Linked DNA regions of Homo sapiens: all the other regions are linked to region 3. The links come from fine-mapping of genetic effects on gene expression. A gene starts in region 3. Each other region holds a variant in brackets. All regions are shown on one strand. Distances are from middle to middle.

Evidence for each region. PIP is the estimated chance that this variant, and not a neighbour inherited with it, causes the effect.
Region 1: its variant is the best candidate, but not a certain one, in a credible set for the expression of CITED2 in whole blood (INTERVAL, PIP 0.85).
Region 2: its variant is the best candidate, but not a certain one, in a credible set for the expression of CITED2 in nasal epithelium (TOPMed, PIP 0.70).

What each region holds. Positions count from the first base shown.
Region 1 is chr6:139,634,814-139,642,647 of GRCh38, reverse strand. No RefSeq gene overlaps it. Among named protein-coding and RNA genes, the nearest start is that of FILNC1, 130 kb to the left of the region's middle. RefSeq lists silencers at 1,983-2,082, 2,396-2,563. The variant A/G (reference allele first, on the strand shown) is at 3,980.
Region 2 is chr6:139,905,715-139,913,548 of GRCh38, reverse strand. No RefSeq gene overlaps it. Among named protein-coding and RNA genes, the nearest start is that of LINC02941, 67 kb to the left of the region's middle. The variant C/A (reference allele first, on the strand shown) is at 3,779.
Region 3 is chr6:139,370,072-139,377,905 of GRCh38, reverse strand. It overlaps CITED2 (Cbp/p300 interacting transactivator with Glu/Asp rich carboxy-terminal domain 2), which reads left to right and starts at 3,258. Exons shown (of 2, transcript NM_006079.5): 1 at 3,258-3,493; 2 at 3,954-6,099. The coding sequence starts at 3,962. The coding sequence ends at 4,774. RefSeq lists silencers at 860-1,154, 2,410-2,719, 2,890-3,269, 3,730-3,879, 4,450-4,549 and enhancers at 3,420-3,589, 4,100-4,159.

The DNA.
Region 1 (7,834 bases), 260 kb before region 3:
ACACTAATTCAAAAATTCAACTAAAATTTTTGGCTCAGTTCTTGTGCCTCCCTTACAAGGTCTTCAATCCCTCATCCTGGTGAATTTATCAGGATCCAGCACATTGCTGGGAATCTAGCCAGCTCAGATGTATGAATTGTCAGCACATCTCTTTTAGGAACTACTCACATTTACCAAGCTTATGGGATAGACACATAAACCTGATGCCAATTTATTATGCGTGATGGGCAATGATCATCACTGGGACTGAAGGACTTCAGGTTCATAGGTACATTTCTCATGGCGGGAGAAATGTGTGCCAAATCACATTGCAAAGTTTGCTTGGTGGCCTGGAAATCAGAACAAAGAGACTTCAAGAAGCAGATAATTGCATGAGGTTGAGATGACCAGATGCAACCATTCCACAGCAGAGTGGTATGTTGGTGGACCCTTCCAGGATGCACGGTCCTCGGATGTGTAGACAGGCACCGGTAAGGTTGCATCCAAAACTCTTCTTTTCTACTTTCATGGTTGACCAATGCTTTTAGTTGTATTTTTTGCCCCTGATATATGATAATACATTTTATTCATTTCAATCAAATCTTGTAAACCTAGGAGCCACTTTATCTTACTTAGATAACTTCCTTTCTCAGTTTTTATCTATCATTTGTTTATCTTAAAAGTAAATTTTCTGATAATCTTATTTTGCTCTTAGAGGAATCCTTTCCACCCTTGTAGAAAAACCCCCATGTAAACCCTTATACACTAGCAACACTATGCATTTTAATATCATTGGTGAACAGAAAGAATACGAAAGGCAGAATATTAAGACCAAATAACTTTTCCTGGGAAACAAAGAATTCAATACTGGTAGAATATATCTATACTTTATTGCTCATTCATTTACTCACTTGTCATTCCGCAGGCATCTATTATGAACCTAATATTGGCTACACATGTTGTAGACACAAGGAAATAGAAATGAACAAGACAGACAAAGTCTCTGCTTCCATGGACCTTAAATTCAAGTGAGAGGCAGGGAGACAGACCGCAAACAAAACAAAATGAAGTAAAATAGGAGGAAGTGGCAAGTGCTCTGATAAAAATAAAACATGTTATGGAGTGATTGGGTAGGGTGGTCAGAAGAGTCCTCTCTGAGGGAATGATGTATAAACTGAGCCCTACATAGCAAGGTGGAAATAGCTATATGTGAATCATGGAAAACAGCATTCCATACAAAGGATACATCTGGTGCAAGCCATACGTCTATCTATTATGCTAAACATCTTCCACTTGTGAGAATTTCTATAGGCAGAAATTGCATTATAGATATTCTCTAGAACATTGAGAAGTTAGAGCCTGAATTTTAGATGCCTGTTGAGTCTGGATATCTGGATATAGTTTCCATCCCTGGAAACTATAAATGTTGAGACAAAGCAATTTTGGCAACTTTCCCATGTTATTCACCAATCATTATATATGATACATGATGAAGATGGTAAAAGAGAAGTTCATATTCTTTGGCTGTTTTCCTGTTGTTAAACTCCTCCCTCCTCCACCAATAGCCTTAAAAGCTCGGCACGAAGCCAAATCAGTTCCAATGCGTCTACCAAAGTGTCGATATTGACCATTGATTCTCTCACACATGCATTTAATTTTCTGAACAAGGAGAGACTTGCTTGATTGGATTTTTGTTCTTTCATTAACTCTTGGTCCTCACAACAGTACCAAAAAGGAGCAAAAGCTATCAAGTTTTGGTGCCATGCTTCAATAGATATTCCATATCCAGATTCTAGCCTCCGGATTTTAATAACTGGGGTCACGCTGAGTTCTCATTTCTCACATAAAATTGCAGGAGACAAGGAAGAAAAACAAATACTAGGAAAACAGAGTAGATACATTTTTAGTGCTCTGAGTTTTTTATGTCAATAATATCTAGTATCGAGCTAAAAGCAGCCCTTGTGAGAGGAAAGGGAGTGAGTATTTTGTCATGGTCAGTCCACATAGTAACAATGTCTTAGCCTGTGGTTTGTGGGTTTCCTTTGGTGTATTCTGTGTCTCTAGATACTTCGCTGTTGTTTCCTAATTTAAAACTCAACATCTTAAAATGCTCTATGTTTTCCTACTAAGTGTAAGAAAATACTTCAAATGTTCTAGTTTAATACCAATTTGTTATTTAAAAAAATTCAAACTGATAGTTTAGATGCTTATTTCACAAACATCCAACATCTTCATCAATCATAGTCACTTTTTTAGGACATTGTTACTGTCATATTAAAGTGTGATGGAATTCACCAGACACAAACCTCTCCAAGTATCTACAAGAGTGATATTCTGATGGGAATTAGCCACCACCATTAGAATGATTGAACCATTCTAAGATTCTATGTTACCAGATAATAGGCCATAAACCTCCAAGTTCTTCTGTACACTCACCTTTTTTTTTTTTTTTTTTTTTTGAGACAGAGTTTCACTCTTGTTGCCCAAGCTGGAGTGCAGTGGCACTATCTCGGCCCACTGCAACCTCCGCCTCCTGGGTTCAAGTGATTCCCCTGCCTCAGCCTCCCGAGTAACTGGGATTACAGGCGTGCACCACCACGCCTGGCTAATTTTTTGTATTTTTAGTAGAAACAGGTTTCACCATGTTAGTCAGGCTGATCTCGAACTCCTGACCGCAGGTGATCCACCCGCCTCGGCCTCCCAAAGTGCTGGGATTACAGGCATGAGCCACCACGCACTGCCACTCATCCTTTACTTCTACATAACAAGATGTAGTTTTGTTTACTCTTCATTAGAGCTTCAACCATAGTGAACTGAAATTTTGCTGGGCCTACACTTGTATTTGCATCAGTTATATAAGTCATCCTTCCCTACTTATGTGCCTCTCTGACTCCTTCTTGAACAGCTAAAGTGTGATAAGCAGCGGCAAAGCCTTTCTAAATCTACTCTGGAGTACTTAAAACTGGACTTTATATAAGAAGTAACAATGTCTTCATCATTCTTTCCGAGAACTTCACAGGAAATTTAAAATTCCTCTTGCGTAACATTGAAATAATCAGACTGTCACTTCAGTCGGGTAATTCAATTTTGTATTTAGCAATTAAATAAAAATATTTAAACGTAAAATTTACAAACACACATGCTTGGTCAAATGGACTTTATCTGAATCTTCAATAATTAAGTTGCTTTATAAAATATCCAGATTTTCAGCCTAGGAAAAGATACAAGCATTTCAAGACTAGAGAATTGTGAGAGCAATAGAAATATTTATAAATAAATGTTAAAAGTGAATATCCAAATTAGAAAATTAGAAATTCAGGCATCAATTTAAAGTATCTATCTAAATTGACAAGGCCTCACTCTGTAGCCCAGGCTGGAGTGCAGTGCCACAACTGTAGCCCACTGCAGCCTCAAACTCCTGGGCTTAAGTGATCCTCCTGCCTCAGCCTCCTGAGTAACTAGGACTACAGATGCACACCACCATACTCAGCCAATTTTAAAATTTTTTTTATAGAAATGGAGTCTTGCCATGTTGACCAAGCTGGTCTAAAACTCTTGGCCTCGAGCAGTCTTCCTATCTTGGCCTCCCAAAGTGCTGGGAATACAGGTATGAGCCACCACACCCAGGCATCTCCTTTTTAGAAATTTTAAAACTAGAATATTGCATTAGCTTTCCTGTGCTTCAACTGATTTACTAAGACCTTGGAGAAGTCCGTTTTCTTCAGAGGCAACTTATTTCCATTTATGAAACAGGAATGGGAAATAGCTGTAAACAGATCTGTCCATAAAGCTCTGAAATTACTTCAAATGAAGGAGTCACATAATCAGAAAACCCCCCTAGTGGTGTTGTTTTTATTAGGTGACCCCAGAGAAGCACTTTTAATGACTACAATTCAATCTCCTGTTAGACACTGGAAGATACTGTCAACACAAACGAGTATTGAACTCCAGTCTGGGCAGGCCTATCTCATTCGTTGCCAGGTTATCAGAGCATTTCTCA[A/G]GGAAGTGCGTTGACTCTTTCAAGGGAAGTGATATATTGAATGGGAACTTAGTAACCCATGTGAGTAAGTATACACTTTCAGGCGCCTCAGCAAATAAGAAAAACACTGGGCCACTGAAGGCAACTTGTGTCTGATCCTGTATTCTTGACTTTGACATCATGCTACCTGCTGTGGTTCCTGAGTAGGCTTTTCACCAAAACTCTTCTGGCTTCTCCCCTGAGAGTGGCTCAAAATGCTTAAATGTGTGAAGGCTCTTTATCTACCCCAGCCCTACCTTTATCTACCCAGCCCCTCCTTCTGGAGTTCATTTTCCCCTGCACAGAAGGTTGACAATCAAACTGTCCAATTTGTGGAACAAACAGGTTTTCTTATTTGATAAATAAAGCTCATTCTGATTTATACGTCCAATACATTATTGTGTTCTCAGTATATATGGACTTGCCACAGGTTAACAAACACTGATTGAGCATCTCCCATATGCTAAGCATTTACCATCTTAGAGTAAGGTTGTCTCCTTATGATGCCTCCATGTAACACTTTATATCTTTCAAGTAGAATTTAGATTTTTCTGCCTTATCCACCAAGTGTTGTGGTAAACAGAATTCTAACATAACCCACAGACCCTCATTGTCATATGATCCTTTCTTCTTGAGCATGGAAAGAACCTATAAATACTGTGGGATGTCAGTCCCATGATTAGGTCACATTTTTTGTCATAGTGTCATAAACCTAACCTGGCATAATCAGTGAGATCTTAAAATGGACAGGGTTCTTCCTAGTAAAAGGAATTCAGAGTTTCAGAGCAATTCTCCATTGCTGGCTCTGAAGAGGGAAGAAGAACATGGCAAAGATGTGAGTGGCTTCTAGGAGCTGAGAACAGCCCCAAAAGTCAGCAAGAAATAGGGACTTCAGTCCTACATTGCATGGAACTGAGTGAGCTTGGAAGAGGACCCAAATCCCCAGATAAGAATCCAGCTCAGGCCAAGCACAGTGGCTCACACCCTGATATGGTTTAGCTGTGTCCCCATCCAAATCTCATTTTGAATTGTAGCTCCCATAATTCCCATGTGTCATGGGAGGAACCCAGTGGGAAATAATTCAATCATGGGAACAGGTCTTTCCTATGCTCTTTCCATGATAGTGAGTAAGTCTCAAGAGATCTGATGGTTTTATAAAGCCCTTACACAGGCTATCTTGCCTGCCACCATGTAAAACATCCCTTTGCACACAGAAAAAGCACCTTCATAAGATCCTAAAATCAAGTGAGCACTCATAGTAGCTGATTTTAACTTCATATGACTGAAGAAAAACACTGGAAGAGTGAAGGAAAGACAGTCTTGAATTACCAATGCTACCTCTCCCCCATCCCACAGCAGTGACTGCATGGCACAAAGAGAGAATCTGTGCAGTTAAGAAAGGGAGAGTAAAGCAGCTGTGAAACATTGCATTGAATTCAGTACTGCCCTGTCACAGCAGAAAGCAAATCTGGGCTCAACTCAACCGATGCTCGCCCACCTAGGGTGTATATAAATCAGCCCTAGCCACAGTGGAATTGTTCATCCTAGAAGTCAGAACTTGAGTTCTGGCAAGTCTTGCCACCACAGGCTAAAGTGTCCTGGGGCTCTAAATAAACTGGAAAGGCAGTCGAGGACACAAGGACTACAACTCCTAGGCAAGTCCTAGTGTTAAACTGAACTCACAGACAGTGGACTTGGGGGGCACATGACCTACTAAAACATCATCTGGGCTAGCTAAGGGAGTGCTTGAGCCATCTCTCTCCCAACCCCAGGCAGTGTAGCTCACAGCAATGAAAGCGACCCCTTCCTTCTGCTTAAGGAGAGGAGAGTGAAGAGTAAGGAGGGCTTTGTCTTGCATTTTGGATACCACCTCAGCCACAGTAGCATAGGACACCATTCTGAGCCATAAGGCCCTCCTTCCAGGCCCTAGCTCCCAGACAACATTTCTAGACACACTCTGGGCCAGAAGGAAATCCACTACCTTGAAGGGAAGGACCCAGTCCTGGTAGGACAGATCACCTACTGACTAAAAAGCCCTTGGGCCCTGAATAACCAGCAGTGACTCCCAGGTAGTATGCTGTGGGCCTTGAGTGAGACTCTGAAACTTGCTGGCTTTGTGTGACACTCAGCACATTCCCAGCTGTGGGAGCTACAGGAAGAGTCTCCTGCTTGAGAAACGTGGAAGGAAAAGTAAGGGGACTTTGTCTTGCACCTTAGGTACCAACTTAGCAATAGAGGGTTAGAGCAACTTGCAGGCTCTTGGAGTCCCCACTTCCAGGCCTTGGCTCTTGGACAGCATTTCTGGACCTGCCCTGGGCCAGAGAGGAGCCCACTGCCCAAAAGGGTGATTCCCAGACCAGGCAGCATTCACCAGAAGCTGACTGAAGAATCCTTGGGCCTAAAGGGAATATTGCCAGTAGTCTGGCAGTACTCCCTGTGGGCCTGTGGTGATTATGACCACAGGGTGAGGCTCCTCTACCTGTGGAAAGGGGAGAAAAAAGTGAGGACTGCATCTTGTTGTTTGAGTGCCAGCTCAGTTGCAGAACAAAAAGAACACCAGGTAGACTTCTATGATTTTTAACTCCAGTAGCTCGCACCCGAGCAGCACCTCCGGACCCACCTGGGCTCAGGGAGAACTTGCCTCCCCAAAGGGAAGGAAACAGGCCTGGCTGGATTTGCCAGCTGTTGACTGTAGAGCCCCAGGGCCTTGAGTGAACGTAGGCGGTAGGCACGTAGTGGTTACAGCAGGCCTGGAGCAAGACCCAGTGCTATGCTAGCTGCTAGCTTCAGATCTGACCCAGTGCAGTCCCAGTGCTGGTGGCCACAGGGTTGCTTGTGTCACCCCATCCCTAGCTCCATACAGCTCAGAAGAGAGAGAGACACCATTTGTTTGGAGGAAGTAAAGGAAGAGAACAAGAGTCTTTGTCTGATAATCCAGAGATTTCTTCCAGATCTTATTCAACACCATCAAGATGGTACCTCTATGTATCTGCCAGAACCACAACATTGCTGAATTTAAGGTATTCCCTAATGCAGATATGGCTTCGATTACAACACCCAAGTCCTTTTGAATACCTGGAAAGCCTTCCAAGGAAGGACAGGTACAAACAAGCCTAGACTGCAAAGATTACAATAAATACCCCATTCTTCAATGCCCAGACAAAGGTGAACATCTACCAGTATCAAGACAATCCACGATAACATGGCCTCACCAAATGAACTAAATAAGGCACCAGGGACCAATCCTGGAAAAATAGAGATATGTGACCTTTCAGACAGATAATTCAAAATAGTTACTTTGAAGAAATTCAAAGAAATTCAAGATAACACAGAGAAGGAGCTCAGAATTCTAGGAGATAAATTTAACAAATAAAACAATTAAAAAGAATCAAGCAAAAACTCTGAAGTTGAAAAATGCAACTGACATATGAAGAATGCAGTAGTCTCTTAACAGCATAGTTGATCAAGCAGAATAAAGAATTAGTGAGCTTGAAGACAGGCTATTTAAAAATACAGTCAGAGGAGACAAAAGAAAAAATAATAAACAAACAATGGAGCATGCCTACAGGATCTAGAAAATATCCTCAAAACGGCAAATTTAAAAGTTGTTGGCCTTAGGCAGGGTGCAGTGGCTCATGTCTGTAATCCCAGCTACTTGGAGGCTGAGGCAGGAGAATCGCTTGAACCCGGGAGGCGGAGGCTGCAATGAGTCAAGATTGTGCCACTGCACTCCAGCCTGTGCAACACAGAGAGTCTTTCTCAAAAAACAGAAAAAAAAAAAAAAAAAAGGGTTGTTGGCCTTAAAGAGAAGGGAAGGTAGAAAAAGAGATGGGGTAA
Region 2 (7,834 bases), 540 kb before region 3:
TGTGGATCTAGGGAAGCACTGCTCAGTGGACTTCAATGAAGTTGTTCCATGTCTGTGCTAATACAGTAGCCAATAGCCACATGTGGCTATTTAAATTTTAATGTTAATTAATTACAATGAGACAAGATGAAAATTTAATTCCTCATTCATAGTAGTCATATTTCAAGTACTTAATATTCACATGTGGCTAGTGGGTACCATATCAGCATAGATACAAAATATTTCCATCATCATATCTTTTTTTTTTTTTTTGAGATGGAGTCTTGCTCTGTGGCCCAGGCTGGAGTGCAGTAGCACGATTTCGGCTCACTGCAAGCTCCGCCTCCCGGGTTCATGTCCTGCCTCAACCTCCTGAGTAGCTGGGACTACAGGCGACTGCCACGACGCCAGGCTAATTTTTTGTATTTTTTAGTGGAGACAGGGTTTCACCATGTTAGCCAGGATGGTCTCTATCTCCTGACCTTGTGATCCACCCGCCTCGGCCTCCCTATCATATCTATTTATGGGACAGTCCTTCTCTAAACTAGGGGCTAGGGAAGCTTTTCTTAAAATTTACCTTAACAGTAAATAGTAAATCATTGAAGCTTCCAGACCCAATGACCTCTGTCACAACTGCTCAACTCTGCCTTTGTAGCTGGAAAACAGCCATACCTAGTAAGTAAACAAATGAACATGACTGTTTTCTGATAAAAATGTACTTACAAAATACGAGCAGCTAGCCTGAGGACCACAAATTGTTGAACCCTTCTCTAGACCATTTCCATAACAGATCTTCAAAGGCTCTGGGACCCTGCTTTCATACCTCAAAATTAACACTTCATATTTCAATATAGAAACTGAACTGGAAGAGTCTTCTAAACAGCTCTTCTCCTGGCTGCTTTAACACTGATTATGTTAAGACAATGTCCAAATGTCGTTGTAAAAATATTAAGTAAAGTAATACTCTTGATAGTGGCTTTATTTTATGTCAAGTGAAAGGAAATGGTAATTCTTGTGGCAAACCTAAAATAAAAATATTTTAGACAGAAACATTTTGGGAATGTGTTGCCTTTTGGCTTAGAATAGATTAATATCCATTATGGGAAAATTTTTTTCATTGTTTCAGTTACAGCAGTAAGTGAAACACACAAGGTGTATCTCCACATACTCTTCCATTATAACTTCATGAGTAGTCAGTTCTTTTAGCATATGTGAAAAACAGAAACATGAAAATCATTATTTTCTCATTCTTTACATCAAAAATCTATGTTCAGGAAGAAATAGTTAGCTATGTACCTAGTGTTTTAGGAAAAAAATTTACTAGTGTCTCCTTTCAACATAAAAAACATTTTTTCAATATAATTTGGATTAGTAAATATCTAAATACACATAATCTACTAGGCACCGGGAAGAAAAATATACAGTGTTGCCTTTACCAAGTGTTTAAATTAGTGGCAAAACTTAAAAGTTTCTAGAATCTTGAAGAAGAGATGTCTCAGTTGATTTTCCCTCACTTGATCTTCTAACACAAGCTTGTCCAACGCATAGCCACATGCATCCCAGGATGGCTTTGAATGTGGCCCAACACAAATTCATAAACTTTCTTAAAACATGATATTTGTTTGCAATTTTTTTTAGCTCATCATCTATCGTTAGTGTTAGCGTATTTTATGTGTGGCCTAAGACAATTCTTCTTCCAATGTGGCCCAGGAAAGCCAAAAGATTGGACACCCCTGTTCTAACAGGTCTAACTTCCTTAGAAGTCTCCAGGTTTCCAGGGGAGCACCTGAGAGAAAGAGGGGGCAGCCTGATCTGAGAGCTCCCTGCATAAGTGTGGGAGAGGGGAAGAGTTGATCTGAGCACTCATAAGGGTCAAGCTCATTAGACAGAACTATTTTTCAATCATTTTATTTCTTCTTTTGGCTGCAATAATTTTCATTTTTATTTAGATCTTCATTAAAGTTTCAGAAACAAAAAAAAAAGGTTATTTAATAATTTACTGACTCAAACCATCCAAGGCCAACGAATGTCTGCTTTTCTCCAGTACATGTCATTTCCAGGTAAATTAGGTTATGGTACTGTTATGATTTGAATGAGTCCCCACAAAGTTCATGCTTTCGAAGCTTAATCCCCGATGCAACACTGCTGAGAGATGGGACCATTAAGAGGTGACTAGGTCATGAGGGCTCTGCCTTATGAATTGATTAATGCTATTGTGGGAGTAGGTTAGGGATCTTGATACTAGGTTTCTGATAAAAGGATGAATTTGGTCGCTTTCCTCATTTGATCTTGGTCTTGTTTTCTTGAGCTCTCCTGCCACTGGATGACACAGCAAGGAGGCCTTTACCAGATCCCAGCACTTTCGTCTTGGATTTCCCAGCCCCTAGAACGGTGAGGAGTCAATTTCTTTGCTTTAAAAATTACCCAGTCTGTGGTATTCTGTTATAGCATTACAGAATTGTTGGGACAAAGATGGGCACCCTGATCTAGAAGACAAATATACTCTACTAGGAAAATAGATACTTAGTTCTGCTGCTTTTTGGAAAGGTTACTAAAATGCCTATATTGGTTAATTAGTTAGTTAGTTGGTTAGTTAGCTTGTTTAAGTGGACTTTTTTGTTTTTGGGAGTAGCGTTCCTGTTTGCCCTCATTTAGAGTTGTGCTCAAATCTGTGAATCTTGCTATAGTCCAAACTCCCAAACCACTGGATCCTGGCAAAAGAACAGGTATCAAGAGAAAACTTTGAGACTACAAGTTAACAAATGAAAGGTGAGCAGTAAAGAATGGGACAGTCACCTATCATTGTACTACAGTCAGGTTAGAAATCAAGATTGTGAGGTTTTACCTTTTCAGGGAAAAAAATATTCAAAATGAAAATATTACAGGGAAAAACTATACTTTGATAAATAATAGCTTTTCTGTTATTCTGATAAATATTTTACATTTTTCTATATATTATATATTGTTAATCTATAGGAAAAGATTTTATTCAATTTTGAATCAATTCAGTGATTAGAAAAATACTATATTAAGTGTGAAGTTCTGAGATAACTGTATATCTTAAGGAAGATATGAAAGAATTATAATACTTACAGTAATAGTAATTCTTACCAATGCATGAAGCACATAATAGATAGCTGGCAAGTGTTTATGAGATGAATATTGATTTAATTCTTAGTTTCATAAGTGAAAATGAAAAAATATGTGAGTCATTCTAGTTCATAGGTTTACAAAAGACAAATCATCACACTTAAACAGCATAGAGTTGATTAAGCCACTGGACAAGAAAAATAAGGTGAATGTATCTAACCAAGAGGAATAGATATTTGAATAAGAAGTTCATTAGAGTTTACAGACCAGTGACATCACCACTCTTCAGAACACTTCTTTAGGATCATGTTGTTTTCCAAATAGTTTTTTCAATCTTTCTGCCAAAGGTTTTATGTCAGCTTTTGATTGGCAGCTGATGAATCACACCACCTATAATCATATCCTGATTTATCTTGATCTTTATGTAAATAAATGAGGAAAGAGGAGACATGCTTACCATGAAATATTCCAGTAGAGTTTGAAAATGCTTGTTCTCATTGAGCAGTGAATGACTTTGAAGATTAACAAAGCTAAGTACGTAAATGATATCAACATGAGAAACAAACATGAATTCAAAGAATCACGGGATTCTATCAAATTGCTGGTTTGTAGCTAAACTTACATAATTTAGGTAAGAGGAACAATGTATACATGAAATAAAAGACCAAATAAGTTTAGTTATTAATACACCTACTGTAGGAACATTACT[C/A]TAGAAACATCCTATGGAAACCTATTTAAAATGATAGATTAATTCATAGAAAGTATTATTTATAGTCTGAAGTTAGTCGAATAAATAAGCCTATTCTTGTTCTACTATGGATTTTCCTGGGAAATGTATAAAAGGTAACAGATCCTGGCCAGGTGTGGGGGCTCAAGCCTGTAATCCCAGCACTTTGGGAGGCCAAGGCGGGCGGATCACGAGGTCAGGAGATCGAGACCATCCTGGCTAACACGGTGAAACCCCGTCTCTACTAAAAATAGAAAAAATTAGCCTGGCGTGGTGGCGGGTGCCTGTAGTCCCAGCTACTTGGGAGGCTGAGGCAGGAGAATGGTGTGAACCCGGGAGGCAGAGCTTGCAGTGAGCCAAGATCAAGCCACTGCACTCCAGCCTGGGTGACAGAGAAAGACTCCATCTAAAATAAAAAAAAAAAAAAGTAACAGATCCTTAGTGAATAAATTATTTGGAAATGCCATGTAGGTGGTTCTTTCAAAGAAGTCCCCAACAATATACACGAGACCTGAACAAAATTTAGTAAAGATGGATTTTAATTTAAAGCATAAACCAGCAAAATTTGGTAAAAACTTGAACCTAATTTTGTAGACATAGTCATAATGGCTGCAAAAATAAACTATGGTTGGAATCAAATTTTAAAATCAGTGTAAATGTGTTAACAACTAAAAATTAGAGGCAAAACTATCAACATTTATGGTATGTCCCATTATACTTTATGTGGCAGAAAATAAAATGATAAAAATAAACATTTCTCTGATTTAAACAACAAAAGTCCTGTTCACTTGGCCCAATCCAAAGTGTCCTTCTTGTTAAAGTAGATTGCTGAACAAAACTTTCTCAGCAGGATTGGAGATTTATGTTTGTTTTAAGTGACACGATGTAAACAGATTATTAAAAGCAGAACTATTTAATAATGAGTAGAGAATCAATATGAGAGTATTTAACACAGCTTTTTTTTTACTATTTTCACTCTTTCCAGTTCTCCACGATAATATATTAACATGGACCTTTGTAAATATCTTTTAAAGTATAACACTGCTTTATTACCGTCTACATATTACTATAGATTTGTTAAATATTACAAATATTGATACTTTTTCTCAGATGTCTAGTAATTGACATTGAAAACTAATGCAGTACATTTTGGTTCAATTGGTGTTTCTCTTTACATACATTTACTCCCTCTATTTCACTGTTTCCTTATGGGAGAAATAGTATTTTTTTGCAACCTAGAAAGATGCAAATCCACGTGTGGAAATTTTTAAGCAAAAGCTCACAGTTGGTAGTGAGCAGTCTTTGTGTTATCAGCAACCTAAGGACACTTCAATGAAGTTTTCAGTCACAATATTTAGAGGGAATTTATCTTATTTTAAAAAGTTTTGGGGTATTTTAAAGTTGTATATTTAGATCCTTCTTAATAAAGCACATATTCCTATGATACTGAAATTATTAGAAAAATAGCTATTACTAAGTGTATGCTATTTGAGAATTGAATTACAAAATTAATCCCATAGGATGTAGAATTAAAGAGCAACAATTATCTGTAACAAGTTGTAATTCCACTACGGACCTTGATAATATTTTTTAAGTATTGAAAATAAATCCAAAGCATATTTTTAAAACAAATAAACAACAGAAAATTGTAAAGGTCAGATTATAGTATTAAGTCATAAATGAAATCTTCACTTGATATAGTGATAAACATGTTTATTTAGAAATGTTTTTCTATCTTTTATTTTTGTTTCTTCTACTAGACTTTTTTGTCTACTACATTTTCATCTATTGATGCTCACTTGAGCCCTTTGTTGTATGTCTTACTTAAAAGATAATTATCTTCTTAAGAACTAAATGTCACTGAAAGCAAATTTATTCTGAGATCATATAACCAACCTGTCTTAGTCTGTTTAGTGTTGCTATAAAGGAATAACTGAGGCTGGATAATTAATAAAGAAAAAAGGTTTATTTGGCTTACAATTCTGCTGGCCGAAAGACTGGGCATTTGGTGAAAGCTTCAGGCTGCTTCCACACATGGCAGAAAGCAAAGGACAGTTGATATGTGCAGAAATCATATGGAAAGAGAAGAAGCAAGAGAGAGAGCTAGGGAGTTGCCAGGCTCCCTTTTTAACAACCAGCCCTCATGGGAAGCAATAGAGTGAGAACTCACTCATTAGCATGAGGATGACACCAAGCCATTCCTGAGGGTTCTGCCCCCATGACAAAAACACCTCCCATTACCCCCCACCTCCAATATCAGGATCAAATTTCAACATGATGTTTTGGGGAACAAATATTCAAACTATAGCACAACCACTACCCAATCTGCAGTGGTTGTGTGTGTATATACCCAGAAGATACATCACAATAGAGAGAAAGAAGAGATTCTAGTTTATCTGCCACTAACACATTTGTGATCTTGGTCAGCTTCTTAACATCTGAGTCTCAGTTTACTCATCTTTCAAAGGAGTTTGATACTCTAACTTTGCTTCCAAGTTCTGATATTCTGTGATCTTATCACAGTTGTTTAACTTGCCAAAGTATTGATACTAGTGGTATGCCAATAACAATGTTGAGAAATAACCTCACACAAAACATCACAAACTTAATTATGGCTATGAAGATCATATACCAATGGTAGGAATAACTGGAGATGTTTGCATGAAATAGAACTTTGGTAAAATGAAATAAAAAATGTAATGAGCTGTGTAGTACGCCAGCACTGTCCATGCTGTTTAAGGCACACAATGCATTCTGATTCAAAGTGAATATAATTAACACTGTCATCAGTAACTGAAGTTCTTATTTTTTAAAAAGAAGACCGTAACAATTTATTTATGTTACATCAGAATCTAGAAGAGTTCTTTATACAGTAGGTACTATGTAAGTATTTTTAATCAATTGGCAGAGGGCATCTAAATAGGCTGACAAATTTGCACAGATATTAAGCAACTGACAGGGCAAACGTAGGCAGTGATATGGTTGGGCTATGTCCCCACTCAAATCTAATCTTGTATTGTAGCTCCCATAATCACCACTGTGGCATGGGAGGGACCTGGTCGGGGGTAATTGAATCATGGGGGCAGTTTCTTCCATGCTGTTCTCATGATAGTGAGTGTTCTTACAAGATCTGATGGTTTTATAAGAAACTTTTCCCCCTTTTGCTCAGCACTTCTTGCTGCCACTGTGTGAAGAAGGATGTGTTTGCTTCCCCTTCCACCATGAGTGTTAAGTTTCCTGAGGCCTCCCCAGCCATGCTGAACTGTGAGTCAATTAAACCTCTTTCCTTTATAAATTACCCAGTCTCGGGTATGTCTTTATTAGCGGCATGAGAATGGACTAATATAGGCAGAAACCCACTAAACCCAATAGGCAACATCTGAGTCTTTAATATAAAATGTGCTGTACTTGCAAAGCAGTAGAAGCCATTGGGCAAAAATTAGCTTCTAGGTCAAAACCTAATGCTTAAGACATAGTCAGGAACAGAAGTTTGATACATGAAAGACAGCAATAGTGTTGTAGGTCTATATTACTGTTGCAGAAGATGACTCTAAGTACCATTCGATAAACTTATTAAAAACTATCAGGCCTCCCATGACATTTTATATTCTCATAAAACAACACAAATGCTAAATTAAGTTTGAATTTGAATTAGCAAAGAATAAGAAAATCAATTTAAGTGTTCCCAATGCACCTTCAACCCTTGCACCCTTGCTTTGCATCTGTATATTTCATTAGTATATTTTGTTACATGATCATGTAATATTTATGCAGTAACATAATATGCTCTGTACATCTACGATTAGAGAAAAAGTGCAGTTCTTTTCCATTATTTTGTGCCCTTTATCTGCTGAACACTATGTAACATTACCCAGGGTTTGGTGATTATGTAATGAGGACTCCTATTGTAATACACGCTGCACAGTTGGAGGATTGCTGTGGGAAACTTAACTCTGCAAATCCTGAGTTTGGGAACAATTAAAGCCTTGATTTTAATGTTACAGTCACCTCATTTTTCCCAAAATATTTTGCTTTTTT
Region 3 (7,834 bases):
ATACACATACAGGGGGGCGGGGGGTGGAAAACGTCACATGAAGATGAAGGTGGGGATCAGTGTGATGCATCTACAAGTCAAGGGACACCAAAGATTGCCGGGAAACCACCAAAAGCCAGGAAAGAGACACGGAATAGATTCTCTCTCACGGTCTTCAGAACCAACCCTGCCAACAACTTGGCCTTGTACCTCTAGCCTCCAGAACTGTGAGACAATAATGTTTTGTTGTTTAAAGCTTGATCAGCCTTAAGTTTGTATTAGACTGGTGCAAAAGTAATTACAGTTTTCGCCATTGCTTTCAATGGCAAAAATCACAATTACTTTTGCACCAACCTAAATAGTACTGTGTTATGGCAGCTCTGGGAAATGAATACAACCATTCAGTGCTGTGAGGGCCACAGACAGATCACTTGCTCGCTCACCCAGGTTCACGGGATAAACCCTGGTTATACGGAACTTCTGGGAGCCCTGGGTTACTGTAAGTGCCCCCTAACTGGACTCCCTGTTTCCTGTCTTACTTTCTCTAACCATTCTCCACAGTACTGCCCTGATCTTTCTAAAATCCAAATCTTTCCTATCTCATGGCTTCACAAGCTTTTACCTGCCTCCCAATGTCTTTGGGATACAGCAAAATTTCTCAGCTTGAGGCCACAATGCCCTTGGCATCCGGCCCCAGCATATTTCTCCAACCTTATTTCTCTCATCTTTGCATTCACTCCCTAGCCATACATTTTCTACCCCACTCCTAATGGGACCAAACTTCCATTCATCCTGAGGCCTCCACTTAGTCACCATCTCCACCGGAAAGCCTTCCCAAAGCACCCAGGAGGGGGGTAGGTGTCCCTCCTATGTGCTCTCCAAAGCCCTTTCCTTCAATGCCTTTGTGGCATTTATCACAGTGTGTTCAAGGCCTGTTTGTCAGTTTTCTCCCTGTGACCATGAGTTCCTATCTTGTTTGTATCTCCAGGCACCAAGAAAGCACTTGGCACTTGGAGGACATTCAGTGGACGGATGAGAATAAATGAACAAAGCATGCCATGTTCCAACCAGCTGGTCCCAGAACTATTTTGTTCTCCTTTAAGGGATGGGGGATGGGCAGGTGACCTTTCCAGGGATTTCCCAATAGTAGGTAGAACCACTGGAGCTGGATGGAGCTCCACCTTTCCTTAGTGGTTGCAAGAGGAATTTAGATTAGACATTCAAAAGCTGTTTCTTGTGTCGAAAGACACTTGCAGTACAAAGAAGGGAAAGTAAACAATCCCGCGATTTTTCAGGTTGGGTTTTACCAATATTTTAGAATCTGTTTTTTTATAGGAAGTGGCCCCTTCAGGTATCCAAGCCTCTGATACGGTAAACTGCATGTCCTGACCTACAGGTAAAGGTGGTGGGAGGTTAGGAGAATAGGGAATTGTTGCAACTAACAATGCAATGTGTCATGTGCCCGTATCTCTAAAAAGTAAATATTTTTGAGGTTTAAAAATTATTTGCCTGCACGGTTTGCCGGAGAGCCTGGAAGAGGAAAGAAGACAAGACACAAAGTAACAACATTTACAAAAATATGCCTGACTAGGAAAAGACAGAGGGGTCATAGACGAAAATAATCAGGATTGGGTCTCTTTTGCAAATTCCTGAACGGGGAAATGTATCAGAATTTCCAGTCCTCAAGAAACAGGGCCTTTAAAAGTCTTGTGTGCAAGAAGGGGGAAAAAGACGAGGGGGGGGCGGGGAGGCGGACTCGCTCTTCGCAGCAGGAAGTCTTCAATGGCTATCGAGTTATGAAGAAACAACTGCCCAGAAGTCCTTATTCGGAGCGCTAAACTCGATTTTACCACATAAAGAGCAATGTAAAAGCTCAGAACAGCCCCATCATGGTGTTGGGGAAACAACTCGGCTTCCCCATGTGAGAAAGCCAGAGAGCTCCGACTTGGTAGTAGCCCAGACCTGTGTTAGGGGTTTTATTTGCAAGTCAATGAACCAAACGGGCGACCAGGCTCGTTGTGCCGCGTTGTGGAAGCAAGGTTATTATTATCGCCCATTGCCCCACTGAACAATTTCACTGAAAAGGAAGAGTCCCAGCCGTGTGTGTGCGCGTGGTGCCATACGGGACGTGCAGCTACGTGCCCACCTCCAGAACGACTTTATTTACAAAGCGATTACCACGTTATCTATTTGTTTTCCTTTTCCAGCAAGAGCAGCCTTACTCAGCCCTCAAATTTCTTAATTACAAACCCGTTTGCTTCTAAATCAACCCCAAACCGTCAGGCAGAGCCCGGAGGGAGGCTCTGCAAGTTTGTACACACCCCCACCTCCCGGATCCAGGGCAACAGCAGAAGCAAGTAACTGTGTATGTGCAAAAAGGTGGATCTGGGGACGAGGATCGCTGAGTTTGTTTACAGAGCAGAGACGCCTCAGCTCGGATGCCAAAGCTACCAAGAGCTGCAAACGCAAACTTAGCAGAAGCACACGTACCCCGGGAGCGGCAGGCGGGCCCGAAAGCGCGGACTGGAATTCCAGGGCGCGGGAGCGGGGGTGGCCGGGCCCTCGAGCGCGCTCCGTCCACCTGCAGCGGCTGCCCCTCCCCGCCCCCAGCTCCTGTCCTTGAAAGGAGTGGAGGAAAAAAATGCATCTACAAGCGGTGATCTAGAGTAGGTCTACCCACTGCCCGTATGAAAACACAAAGGCACAGCCTAGGAAGGCGCGCTCAGGAAAGGGCGCATTATTTGTCCGGGTCTTTAAAACCCAACTCGAGGAAGCACAGCCATTCTTCGCTGCCTGTGGAAGCTTTTGCAAAACCGGGGAGGCACAAGGGCACTCTGGAGGGCGGGGGGCGCTGGGCGAGTCCCCTTTTCCCGTAGAGAGCGGGGCAGATCGCTAGGTGAACCGAGTGAGAAAGCTGGGGGTGGGGTAGATCCAGCCTGAGGGGGGCGGTGAGCTCTCCTCGTGGCTATCCCGGCAGGCTCTACCTTCGGGCGGGGCGGCAGGGGAGGATTTTCCCCCTGCCTCGGGGGTGGCTGAGCCAACCTCGCGTTTCTGGGCCGGGAAGAAACCAGAGTCGGGGGGCGACGGGGCGACTGGGCGGCCCCCGGGCCCCGCAGCCTCTGCAGCACGTGCCGCGGGCGGCGGGGACGCGGCTCCGGGACCCGGTCCAGGGTGTTCGCGGTGTTCCGGAATCCGCGTCTTGGCGCCGCCCGCCCTGGAGGCTCTCGCTCCGCCTTTCCGAAATGCCTATATTAACTGTGGCCAAAGCCCTAAGAAACACAGCTCATTGTTGGCAGCTGCCGGGCGGTCCTGCCGAGCTGTGAGGGCAACGGAGGGGAAATAAAAGGGAACGGCTCCGAATCTGCCCCAGCGGCCGCTGCGAGACCTCGGCGCCGACATCGCGACAGCGAAGCGCTTTGCACGCCAGGAAGGTCCCCTCTATGTGCTGCTGAGCCGGTCCTGGACGCGACGAGCCCGCCCTCGGTCTTCGGAGCAGAAATCGCAAAAACGGAAGGTAAGCGCGACGGGCGAAGCTGGCTGGGGCTCTTGCCAGCCCAGTCCTCCGAGGGCAGGGTTTGCCCGGAGGAAGAGCGTGAGGCGAAGCTGGGGAATAACAACAGGATGTGCAACAACAGGATGAGGAGGGCTGATTTAATGCCTGAAGTTCGCAGCAGGGCTACGGGGCACTTCCTTTATTAGGCCACTTCGGGGAGCAAAGGGGGTGTGGGCTCGGGTCCCCCCGCCCGATCGCAGGGGAAGGGGCTGTTTGTGCAGCGTCCGGCTGTGTTATGAGTGGTAGCTCTTCCGTGGTGGCTAGCCCGGGTGCACAGGCTGTTAGTGGGATCTTGGGGGTGGTGGTTCGCAGCCGACGTGCGCCCGGGAATCCTGGGGGGCAGAGGCGAGCAAAAGTGGGGTGCGCTGTGGTGGGCGACACGTGTGGCGCGGGTCTCATTATCTGCCCTTTTCACTTCCAGGACTGGAAATGGCAGACCATATGATGGCCATGAACCACGGGCGCTTCCCCGACGGCACCAATGGGCTGCACCATCACCCTGCCCACCGCATGGGCATGGGGCAGTTCCCGAGCCCCCATCACCACCAGCAGCAGCAGCCCCAGCACGCCTTCAACGCCCTAATGGGCGAGCACATACACTACGGCGCGGGCAACATGAATGCCACGAGCGGCATCAGGCATGCGATGGGGCCGGGGACTGTGAACGGAGGGCACCCCCCGAGCGCGCTGGCCCCCGCGGCCAGGTTTAACAACTCCCAGTTCATGGGTCCCCCGGTGGCCAGCCAGGGAGGCTCCCTGCCGGCCAGCATGCAGCTGCAGAAGCTCAACAACCAGTATTTCAACCATCACCCCTACCCCCACAACCACTACATGCCGGATTTGCACCCTGCTGCAGGCCACCAGATGAACGGGACAAACCAGCACTTCCGAGATTGCAACCCCAAGCACAGCGGCGGCAGCAGCACCCCCGGCGGCTCGGGCGGCAGCAGCACCCCCGGCGGCTCTGGCAGCAGCTCGGGCGGCGGCGCGGGCAGCAGCAACAGCGGCGGCGGCAGCGGCAGCGGCAACATGCCCGCCTCCGTGGCCCACGTCCCCGCTGCAATGCTGCCGCCCAATGTCATAGACACTGATTTCATCGACGAGGAAGTTCTTATGTCCTTGGTGATAGAAATGGGTTTGGACCGCATCAAGGAGCTGCCCGAACTCTGGCTGGGGCAAAACGAGTTTGATTTTATGACGGACTTCGTGTGCAAACAGCAGCCCAGCAGAGTGAGCTGTTGACTCGATCGAAACCCCGGCGAAAGAAATCAAACCCCCAACTTCTTCGGCGTGAATTAAAAGAAACATTCCCTTAGACACAGTATCTCACTTTTCAGATCTTGAAAGGTTTGAGAACTTGGAAACAAAGTAAACTATAAACTTGTACAAATTGGTTTTAAAAAAAATTGCTGCCACTTTTTTTTCCTGTTTTTGTTTCGTTTTTGTAGCCTTGACATTCACCCACCTCCCTTATGTAGTTGAAATATCTAGCTAACTTGGTCTTTTTCGTTGTTTGTTTTTACTCCTTTCCCTCACTTTCTCCAGTGCTCAACTGTTAGATATTAATCTTGGCAAACTGCTTAATCTTGTGGATTTTGTAGATGGTTTCAAATGACTGAACTGCATTCAGATTTACGAGTGAAAGGAAAAATTGCATTAGTTGGTTGCATGAACTTCGAAGGGCAGATATTACTGCACAAACTGCCATCTCGCTTCATTTTTTTAACTATGCATTTGAGTACAGACTAATTTTTAAAATATGCTAAACTGGAAGATTAAACAGATGTGGGCCAAACTGTTCTGGATCAGGAAAGTCATACTGTTCACTTTCAAGTTGGCTGTCCCCCCCGCCGCCCCCCCCACCCCCATATGTACAGATGATAATAGGGTGTGGAATGTCGTCAGTGGCAAACATTTCACAGATTTTTATTTTGTTTCTGTCTTCAACATTTTTGACACTGTGCTAATAGTTATATTCAGTACATGAAAAGATACTACTGTGTTGAAAGCTTTTTAGGAAATTTTGACAGTATTTTTGTACAAAACATTTTTTTGAAAAAATACTTGTTAATTTATTCTATTTTAATTTGCCAATGTCAATAAAAAGTTAAGAAATAACTTGTTTTCTAGAAGTCATTTGGGGGTGGTTGTTCCCTTTGGTGGCTTTTTTCCCCCCGTCTTTGAGTTGAACACTATTGATGAGAGTAAGCATTCCAAAGGATAAATTACAGGACACTAAAACAGGTCATGATGAGCTTAAGCGGAGAGCAGGATTTAACATAATTGGCATAATGCTTCATTGTTATCATTGTAACATGCCTCTTGGTGTGCTTTAATCAAAAGCTGCAAAGTTGTCACTGCTTTTTTTTTTTTCTTAATTGCCATCATATCAAGTGTACTCCAGAGTTAGAAAGGTTTGCAATACTCAACATTATCTTTTTCAATGGGCAGGAGGCAAAAAAAATCAAGTGTTTCTGTTTATACCTGATTCAACTACTTAAATAGAGGTAGATTGGAATAATACACTGATTGATTGATGGGTGGCATTAAATATAAATCTACCTTTATCTCCAGTGATGAGAGTTTTATTTCTCAGCAAAAGTGCCAAGGATAGGTACATATTTTCTAGCGTAATCTCTGAAACAGTGTCTGACTGGTTTATAGTTCTGAGAAAGATGAGGCAGAATTCCACTTTGAGGCTTTTGTCCTATAATATTTAAAATGTACTCAGGTTGACTCAAAGGTCAAATTACAGTCTTTACAAGATGTTCCCTCTTAAGCATGCCCTGTTTTCCTGAATTCTGAGTTTTCCTGTTGCATGCATGGGATGCAAATCACCTGAAAATTATACTTTAATTTTACCTGGATAGATGTCTTATCAAGAAGACCATAGCTACAACTAAGTGGGTATCAAGTTTTGCCTTATATAATCAAGCAAAGGAAAAAGTAATATTGTGAAAATCTCAAATTATCCCAGGTGGAAGGAGAAGGAATTTTGTTTTTCATGTTTTCATGGCTTATCTTATGTTTATAAGAGCAACACACCTACCTTCAAGAAAAAATACAGACTTTTGTACGCAACTTACTAGGGGAAGTAAAAAATGTAGGTTGAGGAAAATCTTATAAATAATGCTTTAAAAGAACATTTCATTTAGACTCCGATTCTCATCTTAAATTCCATATTTTATAAGAAATCAGGAGGAGCGGATATTTAGAAGTGTTATGAGAGAGTAAGTTGGGCATAAAGGCTGCTTTAAGTATAATTCAGATCACCTGCATTTTATAATTTTATTTCCAAGGTAGGCCATGTAAAATTAAAATGCACACACTCCACTGGGTTTTTTATATACCTCTATAATTGACACTTTCTTCTTTAAAATTATGTTCAAATAAATATACTGAATCATCCAAAACTCTTTTTACCCTACTTTAAAAGCTGATCCAGATTTCCACATTAATAGTTAAAGCTGAAGTTTTCTTCAGCTAAGACATGTCAATACTAAATCTGCAATCAGCAATGAATCTTTCTGGCTAAGCATTTTCACAGTAAGTTTTTCTTTCTCTCTCTCTCTTTTTTTTTTCCAGAGGCTTAAGTGAAAAAATATGTTTGCATACATATTAATACAGCAACTCCAATCCTTTTTCACTAGTGCCAGGAAAAAAGGAAAGTGATTAAATGCATTTTTTTTTTTTTTTTTGCATAAAGAAGCCAAAGAATTGTCTTGCCACCACCCTTCACCATTTATTCTGCCAGGGAATAAGCCACAACACCTGCTCTGTCACTAAATTCCTCCTGCTGCTCAAACGCCGGAACACGTATGTGGAGATGCAGAGCCCAAGGAACTATTATTAGATCTTGAGCCCATCCCTACCAGAACAGAGGACTCAAACAGAGGAGCTGGGCTAAAAAGCACAATTTGTCTTCAGTACAAATACAAACGCTCCCGCACCCCAGTTCACTTGAGTGATCTCTGTTTCATTAAAAACTCTTTCTTGATCAACAATTGAGCAGATTCTACATGATATCTGCAGGTCTCTTAAGCAGAGAAAAATAACTCCTTGTTTCAACAACCTGATTAATGAAACCTGTACAGTGACCTAGATCACCCGGCTACTGGCAGACATTTGCAAAACCTTTTGTGGTCTTGCTTCCTACTAAGTTGCTTATAGCATATGGGGAAATTTGACCTCTGTACCTTGGCTGTTTGTCAAAAAGTTCTAATATGATACAAGAGAGCTTCTGTTCTTTAAGCTTTGCCCAAAAATAGACACTCCATGCTTGATTTTCAAGAAGAGATCAAT